2 linked regions of the Homo sapiens genome follow. The protein of the gene in region 2 purifies or fractionates together with the protein of the main gene of each other region. This does not show direct contact. Each region holds a gene or a part of one and is shown on either strand. Other genes may lie near its edges.

Region 1 (8,005 bases), about 38 Mb from region 2:
GAGTTAGAGAGTTTTCTATGTTCAAGACTCAGTGTTGACTGCTTAGAATGACAAAAATATACCTAAAATCTGATACGTTCCTTCAAGTATTCTATAGGATGGCTGCCACGAGGAATTATAGGCTGTGAACGAGAATACTGTGTCATAACAAAGATGAAAAAAATCCTAAAAACCAGGAGGAGGCTTTGAGCAAGATCAAAGGCTTCACGGAATGTTTAGGTGATGTTTGTGCTGGGCCTAGAACAAGGGGTTGAATTTGTACACGTGGCAATGGAAAGGAAGGACATTCCAGGCAGCAAGAATAGAATGACGCCCTACACAAACAGACACTTCCAACTAATGTTCCCTTACACAGTCTGCTCCTGCTATGTACAAGTTCCTGGGGTTCTTCAAACAGGCGCTCTCCTCAGGGTTTTTGCATTTGCTGCTCCTTCTACCCGGGATGCTCTTCCCCCAGATATCTGCAAGGCTGCCTTTCTTACCTCCTTCAAGTCTTTGCTCAAATGCCACCTTCTCAGTGAGAACTTACCAGACTACCCTATTTTAAACTGTCATCCTCTCACTCTCTAAGACTCTTACCCGCTTTATTTTTTTTTCCACAGCACGTAATACTATCTGGCATGCTATAATACAGCCTACTCCTTAATAGTGCTATGTTCCTCACACAAGAGCGAAAGTTATCTGTTCATCTTCAGATTTTAAAACAGTGCCTGCACATGGTAGGCATAAATTAAATTTATCCGTTGACAAACTGATGGAATGAATGACTGAAAAAAAATAACTGCCCTCAAAAAGGTTATGGTCTAGTGGAGGAAGCAAATGTATAAATAAATAATCTTAAATTATTCCTGAAAGACAAAAAAACACTCGGCAAAACCCAACTTATAGAAACTTAAAACACAGAAACAACTTCTCATACTCCACCTATAAACGGCCAGTGACCACCAGATTCTTCTTTTTATATCTTCTAGCTCTGTGCCCTCAGTGGCACTGTCACTCATACAATGGCCAAAAATGCCACCAGAGCTGCCACTCCTGCCAAAACTGCCACTTCCCACATTAACCGTCACTGCTACCTAGTAAGTGATGGTAAACAATACTTCTGTTCCCACTTTTGGACAAGGGAAAGACAGATTTCTGAGTTTCTAAATTAAATGCATTTTTCAATAGATAGTTAAATTATACACTATACGAGTAGTATACACCGATTACATGGATTAGCCAGGAAACCCACTATTTTTAATATTGCTTAAGTTTAGATATGGAAAAATAATTTTTTGAATTGTTTTACTATTGCAACATACCTTTTTTACACTGCAAATGGATGACACTGGCAAAATGGTTATGACAAAGACTCCTTCAATAAAGGCTGGTACTATATTTTAACAAACAGGTAAAGTTAATGGCATTTTTTCCCATTCGGGAGGATCAACTAGAATTTAATCTGGATTAAAGAATGATGTAGAATTTTTAAACAGACCATTAGTATTGAAGTTATACTAAATTAAAACCACACACGAGTAGCAGAAAATATTCTTTATAGCTAGCAAAAGCAAAACAACTGAAAAAAATGAAGAATAAGCTCAAGATTTCTCACTTCAACTAACACCTCCAGACTGCATTATCATTTTAGGCAAACTGACATTTTCACATTTACTTTGTAATGGCAAGATTGATTTCCATCTGGGACTTATCTGCATAAAAGTGTTAGCCTTGGCACAATTTCAAAATTGAATTGAAAGCTCATTTCTTGCTATAAGCAAAGTGCCACAATACCACACAACAGTTATACCTCACATTAATCCTACCACTGGGAGTCCAATTTTATGTGTTTCAGCTAGCGAATTCTGCCCTCAGGTAAGCACATAACTCTATAAAACCCTTCCTCGATCATCAACAAATCACTTATCTCTACTACCTTAATGCCTCCTGCACTTGTCCATACTAAACAGTATTTACACGTTAAAAGAGAAGTTCTACAAATGCTACTATTCTTCATAAATAGAAAAAAACTATAAATGAGGGCAAATTCCCATACGTGGAAAAATGCCAAACCAGAAGCTGAAATCATAACTTTTAGGTATAGAACCACAGCTCCAATCAGTCAACTACAAACGTCGCCGGTTACTTCGAGGGTAAATAATTTGCAGCCAGCTGGTAAAAAGCCTGATAAAAATATTAGGTCCTCACATATCTTCCTTTTCAATAAGGAGACACCTGAAAGTCACACTGGGCAGTCTGTCACGTATCGAAACATGCAGAAGAGAGACTGTACAGAACGTGCAGTTATCAAACGCAGGAAGCCAAAGTTCCTGTGCTATGAGAGGACCACAGTGAAAAACGGTAGCCCATCTGTCCAAAGAACAGAAAGAAGTCCACCTGGAAAGGATGGGAGTCGGCGGAGGGGGGCGAGAAGAACGAGTTCCACGCCGTCTTCCTCCTCCCGGGCTAACTGCAGCCGCGGGCGGCAGGAAGGCAGCCGCGCGGGGTGGGCTCTTGGGGACTGGGCGCAGGGCTCCGCGGCGCGGCTGGGCTGCGGCTGCCCGATCGGCGAGGGCCGGGCCCCGGGAAGTCTCCAGGGCCTCGCCCGCGCAGCCAGGAAAGCATGCAGCCCACCGACGGGCGGAGGAACCGCCCGGGCAAAGCCACGTCGGTGGCTGACCGCGCGGCAGGGAGGTGGGCACCCTGTCCACACCCACCAGGAGGCTGACAGCTGGCGAGCGCCAGGCGGCCGGGACGGGACAAGGGCCGCAGCGCGCCGGAGGGGGTCGCTCTGAGAAAGCCGCGCTGGGCGCTGCCCGTCGCCAACGACTCCCCCTCGCCCGGATCAGCGGCGGCTGGATACTCACGTAGGGCTGGTAGAACTTGGAGAGCCGCGGCTTCCCGTGGTTGTTGAAGATTAGGATCGCCTTGATCATGGCTGTGCCGGGCCGACCGGGTGGGCACTGGGGGCCAGGGCGGGGGCGGGCGCGCGAGCCTCGCCTCGTAATCTCGCCTGCGATCCTTCCCCACCCGCCCCCTCCCGCACGCGACCGCGCGCGCTCCCGAGCCGTCGGGCGGGGCCCAAGGGGCGGGGCCTGGGCGGGGCAGGCACTAAGGAAAGCGGAAACATTTCTAGGTCCGAGCCAGCGGCCTAACTGGAGTGTGCGCATTCGACCGAGCACAGACACGTTGCCCACCGCTCCTCTCCCGAGGTCTGTAGTCGCGGAGAAACACATGTTGCGTTACTAACGTTCAGAGGTCTGCGACAGCTTCGATTTGAATGACTAGCCGGGAACACCAAGTTTCACTGTGTAATTGCGTCCCCCTACTCCGGCGCCTCCTTTGCGACGCTCCCTGGAGAAAAGCACGCCCACTGCACGCGCTCAGTCGCTACTTCCGCTCTCGAGTGTCTCCAAGCAAGATGGCGGAGGAGCCGCAGTCTGTGTTGCAGCTTCCTACTTCAATTGCTGCTGGAGGGGAAGGACTTACGGATGTCTCCCCAGAAACAACCACCCCGGAGCCCCCGTCTTCCGCTGCAGTTTCCCCGGGAACAGAGGAACCTGCTGGCGACACCAAGAAAAAAAGTAACTGAATTTATTTCCGGGCAGAGAGGCGGGAGGTTCAGATTGCATCCGAGTAGGGGTGGCGGCCAGTAAAGAAGCAAAATTTAGAGGAGCGCCTGTCCTAGACCTGCATTTTGACCAGTCATCAGAAGAAAAGAAGTGTACTTTTTGATTTTTAAGGCCTTTAAGTTGAGTGTTAAAATACCATCTCTGTCTATCGGTGTAGGGCCTGATACTTGGCTGCCACACTTATTTTTATACTGTATTTTTTTGAGTTGGCCAGACTGCGAGCTCTTTGAAGGAGGGAGGGAGCTGAGTGGGGCGGGGGGAGGGGGGTCTCGGTAATTCCAGGTACTTAACACAGGAGCTAATTATTTGAGTAATGTTTTATGGTGGTAGGGGTGGTCATTGGCAAAGCCTGGATTAGAATTCATGCCTTCCAACTTAACTCGCTTTTGCTTTTTTCCCCCTCCCAGTTGGTTGTGAATTCACTCCTTAAACCAAAAACCAAATTCTTATGCAGAATGAAGACTGCTAAGGGAAAGCTAAAGGCATAGATGTTACCTTTTTAAGAAACACATTTTGGAACCTTTGTGAGTTATTTCATTGCTTGAGTCAGCTATCCTCAACCCTTTATTGCTTGAGAATGTTTCCCTTTGTAAAAGAGATTGCTAAAATTACGTGTTCTAAAGCACTCTGTTTAGAGTTAGAGTTGCCTATGGGAAAAGCAGCATATAAGCATCCTCGATTCAGAGAGGCTGATTTCGTCCTTAGACGTTTTCCCCGTTCTGTCTTAAGATGACAGTGGTCTCTGGCCGGGCGCGGTGGCTCACTCCTGTAATCCCAGCACTTTGGTAGGCTGAGGCGGGTGGATCACCTGAGGTCAAGAGTTCGAGACCAGCCTGGCCAACATGGTAAGACTCCATCTCTACTAAAAATATAAAAGTTAGATGGGTGTGGTGGCGCGCGCCTGTAATCCCAGCTACTCGGGAGGCTGAGGCAGGAGAATCGCTTGAACCCGCGAGGCGGAGGTGGCAGTGGGCGGAGGTCTCGCCATTGCACTCCAGCCTGGACAACAAGAGCGAAACTCCGCCTCAAAAAAAAAAAAAAAAAAGACATTGGTCTCATTGCTTTTTCTTCAACTTCTGCTACTGTGGAGGATAATTCTCTCCCAAGACTGCCCCCCTTCCCACTTTAAATCAGACTCCCATTTCCACCTGATGCACTATAAGTATTTCCATGGATAGCCACTGGAATCTTTCTTCAAAAGAATTCCGCAGGTTTTACAGTGTTTTGTTGCATTTTTTCTTCCAATTTACTATAGGCAAGAGCGGACGTTCGGAGATTCGTTTTAAGGTCTAACAGTCTTAGTCAAAACTTGTTACTTGACTCTGATGATAGCTGTGCAAAACAAAAGCTAAAAAAAATGGCTTACAATCTAAATATTGCCCGAGGGCATATTTTCTTGGTCTGGACAGTATTTTTTTGCAAATTGAACTGTCATTTAAGGATGAGATTTTTATTTTCTGGCTCTTGTTAGCATTTGAGTTTGCCTCTCCAATATAAAACTTAGTTTCTAACTATTCCTACCTTGTGCTTGTCATTATTTGTTGAGGATAATATGATGAAAGCAGCTTAACTGTTTTGTATCCTCAGCCTTTGTTAATCTACAGAAGAAAGATTGTTGAAACAGACCAAGGTTTTGGCACTGGAGGTATGTTAGGTTTCCTGGGGAGTAAGTGTTTCCCTAGTTGATTCTAATGTGTATCCGGGTTCAGAACTACAAGCAAATCACCTTTAAAATTAAAAAGAGAGGGCAGCTATAATTAAATTATTTTCCTTCTCTGGTTTCTCACTGTCTTACACTTCATCCTTGGTAGCATAACTCATGATATTTCCTGCTTCACTTTCTGGAAATGTTTAATTGAATTAATCGATTTATTGATAGCCCCAGGGGATTTGAGGGAGCAGTGAAAGGAGGTATGAAAGATAGGCTAACTAAAATCCCACGTTATCTCCAAATTCATTCCTATTCCTAAGATAACTGGACCTAGGATAATTAAGTAGTTCTTTAGTAGGAAGATAAAGATCATGTGTTCTAGATGCGTTCATTCCAGGAGTAAACTTGAATAAAATGACCTCTGATCTTTTGGCCCCAATATTTAATACCTAAAGAATGGAGCAAGAAGGGTGTAATAGAATAGAGTTAACTTTAGGGGGCAGCAATACACTGTTTTGCTTTCAATGTGTCTTGCTTTTTGACTGTAGATTTTTTTTTTTTTTTTTTTGAGAGGATGTCTCAGTCTGTCACCCAGGCTGGAGTGCAGTGGCTTAATCTCGGTTCACTGCAACCTCCGCGTCCCGGGTTCAAGCTATTCCCCTGTCTCAGCCTCCCAAGTAGCTGAGATTACGGGCATGCACCACCACGCCTGGCTAAGTTTTTGTATTTTTAGTAGAGATGGGGTTTCACCATGTTGGCCAGGCTGGTCGTGAACAAGAAGTTGGAAGGGGACTGGGCCCTCTTGAACTCCTGACCTCAAGTGATCCTCCTGCCTCAGCCTCCCAAAGTGTGGAGATTACTGGCGTGAGCCACCGCGCCCAGCCAGATGTATGTTTGTTTTGTTTTAGCAAATAACTTTATGTCTGAGAGACAGATTCATAGGGTTTGGGTTTGCATATCTGTGTTTTGGATCGTTGAAACCTTAAGATTTCTCTTTCTGCAACTTCTTTTTGGCTTTGGTTGTTCTATTGTTAATAACTTATTGCTTTCCTTTATTAAAAAGTTTATTACAGAAAATTTGGTAGTTACAAACAGCATAAGTAAATCCAAGTAATCATTGCCTACAATGTCACTACTGAGAAATATCATTTTGTTGCATATTCTTCCATATTTATGTGAATGTGTTTGTGATGGTTTTTAATGAATTTAAGATATTATACATGCTGTTGGAGAGATTAAATATCCACATATATACCCAGCAAGTGGCAGAGCCAGGATTCGAACCCCAGGCAGTTAAAAGTGTATGCGGTTTACTACATTCTATTTAATCAGTCACCTCCAAATATCCTTTTTGGGTATTTAGGTTTACCAGTGTTTCATATAAAAATAAATGCTTAAATGGAGGTGAAATCTTTTTAAGTGAATTTTCACACATCTCATATTTTCTTACACTGGATTCCTAGAAGTATTATTGAATCAAAGTATACCTTTATTAGGATCTGTATTACCATACTGCATTCCACAAAGGGTATACCATTTTACATTCTCAAAAGTAGTATCATCTACACTGGTAATTACTCTAATTTTAACTAGTTTGGTGGGTGAAAAGGGACATGACATTATTTTACTTTGCTTTTTGTGAACTTAAATATTGTTTGTGTATTGATCATTTGTATTTCCTCTCTTTGGAACTGCCTGTTAAGATAAAAGGCATTTTAAAAATTAGTCCTGTTGGGAGAACTTTGTAGGATCAAGAAAAAAATGATGGAAAAGAATCTAACATTTTTACATCTCTCACATATCTTCAGTATCATAAATACGTAAGATGGATGTAGATTAAATATTTCTGATTTCTAAGTCTTTTATATTCCATTCTCTTTAGATGTTTCAGTGTAATTGTCAGTAAATTTTATTCTTCTTTTACAGTTGACATTTTGCTAAAGGCTGTGGGAGACACTCCTATTATGAAAACAAAGAAGTGGGCAGTAGAGCGAACACGAACCATCCAAGGACTCATTGACTTCATCAAAAAGTTTCTTAAACTTGTGGCCTCAGAACAGTTGGTATGAAACCAATGGTGATGTTTTCCTACAAAAATTTGCAGTAGTTCCTAGGCAACAGTGAATTAACTGTTGTTTATAGAAATGCATATGGAGCCACATATGTCGCTTTTGTTATGCCCTTTTATCCCTTTATTTTTATTTATTCATTTTTTTTTTTTGAGACAGTCTCGCTCTGTTGCCCAGGCTGGAGTGCAGTGACACACTGCAACCTTCTCCTCCTGGTTCAAGCGATTCTCCTGCCTCAGCCACCCTAGTAGCCAGGATTATTACAGGAGTGCACCACCAAGCCTGGCTAATTTTTGTGTTTTTAGTAGAGACGGGGCCGCCTCAGAAGTGCTAGAATTACATGAGTGTGCCACTGTGCCCTGCCTTATCTCTTGTTAGTGGAGTTTATGTACTTTATCAAAGGATTCTCTGGGGAATTCTGAAATGAAATGTTTTAGATTTGTTTTACAATGTGAACCAGTTTATGTATTTATTTTTTGCCTCCTGTATTGTTTTCCTCAGAAAGTCACATGAAAGTATGCATGAATACCCATGCATAAAAATCTATCATAGAGCATTGCAATATCTGTACATTACTACAGAAGTTTTGGATTTTTTCAGTTTGTTTTGATAGCAGTTACTTTTTTCCTATTTTTCTTGAGGTAAGCAATGTATCTTTGCCATATATTGTG
Region 2 (7,174 bases):
GAACTATCCCAGATTAAAGAAGATTAAAGAGACATGGCAACTAAATTAAATATATTATCTTGGACTGGAAACTGTACTTGAGGAAAAAAATGCTTGGGAAAAAAAACACTTTATTGGAACAAAGGATAAAATTAGATTAATTTCCTGAATACATCAACACTGTAGTTGCGTAAGAGAATATCTTTGTTCTTAAAAATTACACATTAAGATTTTCATTGTAAAAGAACATGATGTGTACAACTGAGTCTCCAATGGTTCAGAAGACATAATAACATGAATACGTATATGTGCCTGAATATGCATGGGGAGAGTGAGTGGCAGAGAGAGTAAGCAAGCAATGTAGCATTTTTTTTTTAATTGGTAAATCTGCAAAAGGGTAGCTCTCTGTGTCATTGTTGCAACTTTTTTGTAAACTTGAAACTATTTCATCAGAGTAAACCATTAAAAACCAGAGGTGAGGAATAGGGTAAGCTTTAAGTTTTTTATATAAACTTTGTCATTCGATTTTTTAAAAGGCAAGTAATATTACGGTTTTATAAATGAGAAAATGTGGACTCAAGAGAGATTTAATGACCACTTCCAGAACAGGGGTCTCCTTGTTTCTGTACAATTCCATTAGACTGCAGGTCAATAGCCAAATGTTTCTAATCCCTGGAAGCTTCTCTGGTGGTACTACTTGGAGCTACTATTTAAAGTTTTAAACTTTTTGTGAGTTGTATGCACTCACTAATAAAAATACCATACATTTCATCAAGTAGTAAGTAGCACATCTAAACTTTTGAGAGAATGGGCTCTAATATTAGAGCCCCTGAGTTCAAATTCAGGCAGTGCAATGTTCTACCTTTGTGGCCTTTTCCAAGTTAACAACCTTGCTCCAATTTCCTCACGTGTAAAGTGGGAGCAGAGAAGTACCTGGTAATAACCTGCAGGGTTGTTTAGGAAAACTGAATGAGATAATAAATGTAAAGTGGTGTGCACAAATACTCAATAAATATCTTTCGGGGAACACAATTCAACCATGGTTATTTGCATATATTACATATCACCTCTAATCAATTAGCTACTTTTATTTTAAATCCAACCTGTTAGGTCACCTCAAGAGCACTGGTCACAGAGTCAAAGCCGTAAGTTTTTTTTGTTTTTTTTTTCCAAATCAGGTCCAAATTTGACAAAAATCTTTTTCTTTTTTTTCTTTTTTTGAGACGGAGTCTCACTCTGTCGCCCACGTTTGAGTGCTGTGGCGCGATCTCGGCTCACTGCAGCTTCCGCCTCCCGGGTTCAAGCGATTCTCCTGCCTCAGCCTCCCGAGTAGCTGGGATTACAGGCACGAGCCACCACGCCCGGCTAATTTTTGTATTTTTAGTAGAGACGGGGTTTCACCATGTTGGCCAGGCTGGTCTCGAACTCCTGGCCTCAAGCGATCCGCCCACCTCACCCTCCCAAAGTGCTGGGATTACAGGCGTGAGCCGCAGTGCCTGGCCCCAAATCTGACAAAAATCTAAGAGAAAACATCGTAGATGTTCACAAACCATAAAAGTAAATTAATTTGCGAAACAGATTGATGCCGATATACAGGTTAATTCAGTCTAAACATTTTGCTAATAGTAGAGGCAACAAGCTCCGTACTTGTTCTAGAACAATGGATCATCAAATGCATATAATGAAAAATGAAATCAGTTACCTTACTTTTAAACTTTTCTAACCTTGGGAAAAAGGAAAAGATTGTATCTTACATGCTATATATATGATTTTGATCCTCAATACAGCCAAAATGTAATCCCAATTTGAAGTAGTAGCACTTTCTAGACTACCCAATATTGTTAGTAACGTTTAATTTAAATTTTAATTATACCCTCTAACAGATCTGCAAAGCTACTAGCACAGCTATTCTACCTTAATTTAGCATGAATTTAGTGACAGACTATTATGTGACCCTATTGCTTAGTAATGAAAGATTTAAAATAAGAGAAATGTAAAAATGATAATTCTGGTAAATGTAACCACTACCACCAACCCACCCCCCAAAACAAACAACTTGGGATTTCTTTCCATTTCTCGGTGATACTTTTTACAAAACTAAGTGTACCTTGTTTAACATTCGTTTTTAAAATTCACATTATTAATCTGTAAAAGTTTTGGATTTGTTCACAGTAACACTCTTTTAAAATATTTTCTATTCATATGCTTATTTTGGATTGGTGTTTTTGTCTGTAGTGCAAAGGACATAATCCAAGAACATTAATACTGGTGTAAACCAGTTTGTCCATTCAAACAGCCTAAATCCACCTCTCTGCTCCTACACTCCGGGGTCACAAAATAACTTCCCACAAGCAACACTCGCACTCTCACCTTCACCAAAACACTCCTTTCACCCTAATCAGGGAATGTATTAAAGTCTGATCCGGCGAACGGTAAATAAACTAGAAGACGATGCTCAAAATTCAGACTCCTGAGCCCAGCCCAAGTCCAATTCAATCAGTGTCTTCAGGGGTGGGATCTAAGCTCACCAAGTGGTTTCCTTTTCACTAAAGTTTGAAAACTACTAGAGACCCCTACACACATTCGCCCCAAACTCCCACAACTCCCACCACCGCCAACCAACCCCACCTACCCACCCGCGGGACACGTTACCGCCCTGCCCTGCTCAGACCTCAGGGCGACCCCGCTCCTCTCCAGGAAGCCCACCCTGGCGCCCACTCCTCCGAGTCCGCAGCTCCTCCCTCCCATCCCCGCAACCCAAACCTTTCTCCTCACTTCTTCAAATCGCTGCTAAAGAGGCCGAAGGCCCCCGAGGGGGAAATGGTTGAGGTCGCCTCCTGACCCAGCTCCGTCGCCTCCCCTCCTCCGGACTGCTCATTGTAAGGAAAACTATTGCTGGACATTGCCGCGGTGCTGGCGGGTGCGGGGTTGGTCCTGCCGGGGGTTCTCTCCAAAAGGTTCCAGTCCAGAGGGCACGGAACAAAACTAGTTCTCGTACGGAGGAGCGCGCGCAGGCGCTTCCGGACTCGTCACGGCTCCCTGAGCCGACCTGGCAGTCCACCCCCTGCGCATGCGCAGTGTGCAGGCCTGCTAGATTACCACCCGGGCCATCCAGGCCTGCGCGGACTTTCCTGCTCCGGGCTTTAGAGGTAGCTGAGCGGCTGCGAGCCGGACTGCGGAAGGGGAGGCAGCGGGTGGCTAACTGCCCGGCTCCCGGCCCGTTTGAGGTGTGTCTTTGGAGAAGGATACCCATTGCATCCGTTTTGATCCGTTAAGGAGTTTCCAGAGCCCGGACAGCTCTTTGCTATACTTCAGTAAAGCAATAGTTTTCAGATTTCTCCGGAAATGCCATTTAGCACGCCAGATCACCTTTCCTAAACCCATCACGATCGCTTTTCCTTTTCTTGCTTGTTTCGGCTACTCTCTTCCATCCGGCTTTGCCTTACTTTCATATCGGTCCCAAACAACTTTTCTCCTAGACTTTAAGGAGGCCTCTCCCAACGATGGTTTGGAGGATCCGCACAGAAGCGACCATTCCATCTTTTCAATGAAAGTCTTGGGGGCAGACCGGGCGCGGTGGCTCACGCCAGTAATTCCAGCACTTTGGGAGGCCGAGGCGGGTGGATCACTTGAGGCCAGGAGTTCGAGACCAGCCTAGGCAACATAGCGAGACCCTTTCTCTGCAAAAAATATAAAAATTAGCCGGCGTGGTGGCGCGTGTCTGTGGTCCCAGCTACTGAGGCTGAGGTGGGAGGATCACTCGAACCCAGAAGGAGGGGGTAGCGATGAGTTGAGATCTCTCCACTGCATTCCAGCCTGGGCGACAGAGCGAGACCCTGTCTCAAAAAAATGAAAAAGAAAAGAAAACATCTTGGGGCCACCAGTTCCCGTTTGGAGCTGAAGTGGTGCGTCCTATTGGCGTCTAGCTACCAAAAATAAAATGGACCACCTCGCGCGCCAGTCGTGTTACTCACTAATATGCACTAGGGAGCCTAGGCGGGATGCTTGCCTGGCCCCAGAGTAGCTCTCTCCGGGTGCTGGCACCCGAGAAAACCTCTTTCCCGGGGTGCCTTCCCCCAGCCCGCCTTCTCAGGTGGGTTTCAGCGCCTTCCCTCTCTTCTCCCCAGTGCCTCCCGTCCAAGGAAGGCATTAACACCCAAAGCCCTGGCGGCCAGGTACTGAAACTGTCAAGGGATTCTACCAGGTAGAACGCGAACCTGGAGGCCGGCCGCCCCAGGGAAGGCGGTGGGGCGTTTTCAAGGATGAGAGTATGATCTCCAAATTTCAAAAGGTCACACTGTCACTGTGGAAGCACGCAAGAGCGTGGCTCTGGGTGGGAGAGGAAGGGACGTCCTCCAAACTTGATCGTCTGGTCAAATATTGGCAGGTTTTTAATTCAGCTGTTAGAATACTCCTCCGGAGAGCCAATGATGAGCACCTAAAATGTGTTATTTGTCAGTATTAATTAATAGAATTTCACCTACAACTGACTATTGATGATGAGGATGAGGATGATCATAGATAACTATATATTATTATATAATCCTTAATATATACCAGGATATAAGTAGTTTTATATATATTAAAACTTCTAAGTAGTTTTATATATATAAATAGTTAAAGTAGTTAACTTTTAATATAAAAAAATTTATTTTAAGTTAAAATAAATACTTTTAAGTTAAAATAGTTAACTTTTAATATATATTAAAAGTTCTAAGTAGTTTTATATATATTAATAGTAAAAAGAGCTAGGCTTTGATTACTTTATTTGTAAAATGAGAACATTGATATACACATAGCCTGGAAAATCTCGGACACATACCTGATTACAGAATTTCTTGGTTTTAGAGCATGTACACTTTTACCAGATATCCTAAATTTTTTTCCAGCATACTTTTAGCAGTGGATAATCTTCTTTCTTCACATTCTCACAAACGTTTAGCTTTCTAAAAATGTTTAATTGTCATCAATATGATACAAATGAATATTATTTGTATTGTAATTAATTTTCATTCTCATGGCCATAATGAACTTGAGAATATTTTATGTGATTGTTACTCCATTTGCATTTTATTTCCTGGGAATTGCACATGAACCTATTTATCCACTTTTACACTGAGTAGTTTTTCTGATGGACTTGAAGAGTTCTTTATCATTGAGTCTGTTATTTTTAATTAACTGCTTGATTTTATTTTGTAATATTTTTATTTTTTCATACAGACTCAGGTAGGAGACTGACCTACAATATTGGGGTTTTGGGTTTTGGGGGTTTGTTTTTTGGGGTTTTGTTTGTTTTGTTTTTACATTGTCTTTGAATGGTGTGGATATTAAGAATATCTATTCTTCAAAAAAGAGGTATAGGTAACTTTCTTTTTCTCTGGAATATTACGTATAAGATACAAAGCATATATTCCTGGATGAAATAGGTAAAACTTTATTTTTATCACTAAAAAAAAAATAAAAAAATGAGAGCATTGACAAGAAGGGACTTGAGGCCCTTACTGCCTTAGAATTCTAACACTGTATATTCTTACAGAAAGATAAAAAGTAATAACTCCATGGGCTGTGATCCAGCTTTCCCATATCTCCAGAACTGAAAAATCTTTTATATAGCCATGAAGTTTTCTGACAGAGGAAAAAAAGTCACACTTCCAACTGGAAGAAACATTAATAAAACTAAAAGATTACTCTTTGACACCTGTTGCCAAACCAAACCAGATTTTTCTGTTTCCTGCCAGTATACGTAGTGTCTGGTATTACTGCCAAATAAGCTGTTTTTTTTTTTCCAAAAACTATTTTCCCCCTAACACTTAACAAAACCTTTATCAAATTTTCTGTTTCCATTTCTGTTCATCTAACCCTCATGATATAGGTGTTAAGTGTGTATATATATTCAAGCTTTTTTCTCTAAGCATAGAAAAATAAATGATATATGGCATGTTTCTGCAAATACCAGTTAAAACCATAATACCATTCTGCATCTTACTGCATCTCACTGTTTTAAAGATCTACATAGTATTTCATTTCATAGGTGCATCTTTATTTATTTAATCAATAGCCTATTGATACACATGTAAATTGTTTCCAGTTTTGGACTATTATAACAACTTTGTCAATGCATGTCTTTGCACCACGCCACCACTATTCCCATTAGTTAAGATTCCAAAAGTCCAATAGCTAGAACAGATGATATGTGCAATTAAAATTTTAATAGATATTGCCAAATTTCTAACATAAAAAGAGAATACCAACACTTTCACCAATATTCTTCCATCTCAACACACCCTTTCCAGCAATGTACATCATAAATCTTTTTAATGTTTGCTAATCTGATTGGTAATAATAATAATAAAATCTCTACTATCATTTAAACTTGCATCTCATTTATTCTAAGTAAAGAGACATTAAAATGTATTGTCCAAATAGGAAGTTTTCTTTTTTTGTTTGTTTGTTCGTTTGTTTTTTGAGATGAGTTTTGCTCTTGTTGCCCAGGCTGGAGAATAATGGCGCGATCTCAGCTCACTGAAACCTCTGTCTCCTGGGATCAAGTGATTCTCCTGCCTCAGCCTCCCGAGTAGCTGGGATTACAGGCATGCGCTACTATGCCCAGCTAATTTTATATTTTTAGTAGAGATGGAGTTTCACCATGTTAGTCAGGCTGGTCTCGAACTTCTGACCTCAAGCGATCCACTCGCCTCGGCCTCCCAAAGTGCTGGGATTACAGACGTAAGCCACAGCGCCCAGCCCCAAATAGGAAGTTTTCGAGACAAAAAGTGATACTAGTCATAATTTTACTGGACAAATACATGTAAACCAGGACTCTGCCAGGGAAATAGGCATATATGGTTACCCTAAATATAACAGATTTAAAGCACACATCAAACGGCTATTTGAATTTTTCTTCTATTAATTATGCACATTTGTCACTTGCTTAGTTTTAAGTGGATCTTTTATTGATTTGTAGGCATACTTTATAGATACTGAATGTTAACATTTTCTCATTATTATCTAGAATATGTTATAAAAATTGATTCAAGGCCGGGCACAGTGGCTGACACCTGTAATCCCAGCACTTTGGGAGGCCAAGGCAGGCGGATCACTTGAGGTCAGGAGTTCGAGACCAGCCTGGTCAACATGGTGAAACCCCATCTCTACTAAAAATACAAAAATTAGCCTGGTGTAGTGGTACATGCCT

What was found.
Region 1: the proteins of AP3B1 (region 2) and AP3S1 fractionate together in Homo sapiens (co-fractionation; 6 studies listed by BioGRID and IntAct, with this or other methods). This does not show direct contact.

What each region holds. Positions count from the first base shown.
Region 1 is NC_000005.10:115,836,951-115,844,955, reverse strand, and holds the start of AP3S1 (AP-3 complex subunit sigma-1), read right to left. Parts: upstream 3,022-8,005; 5' UTR 2,919-3,021; coding exon 2,850-2,918; intron 2,470-2,849; exon of another isoform or gene 2,380-2,469; intron 1-2,379. Other genes in the region: ubiquitin-like protein ATG12, read left to right, coding at 3,404-3,566, 7,192-7,328. UniProt on the Homo sapiens protein: Part of the AP-3 complex, an adaptor-related complex which is not clathrin-associated. The complex is associated with the Golgi region as well as more peripheral structures.
Region 2 is NC_000005.10:78,291,698-78,298,871, forward strand, and holds the start of AP3B1 (AP-3 complex subunit beta-1), read right to left. Parts: upstream 3,002-7,174; 5' UTR 2,883-3,001; coding exon 2,755-2,882; exon of another isoform or gene 2,743-2,754; intron 1-2,742. UniProt on the Homo sapiens protein: Subunit of non-clathrin- and clathrin-associated adaptor protein complex 3 (AP-3) that plays a role in protein sorting in the late-Golgi/trans-Golgi network (TGN) and/or endosomes.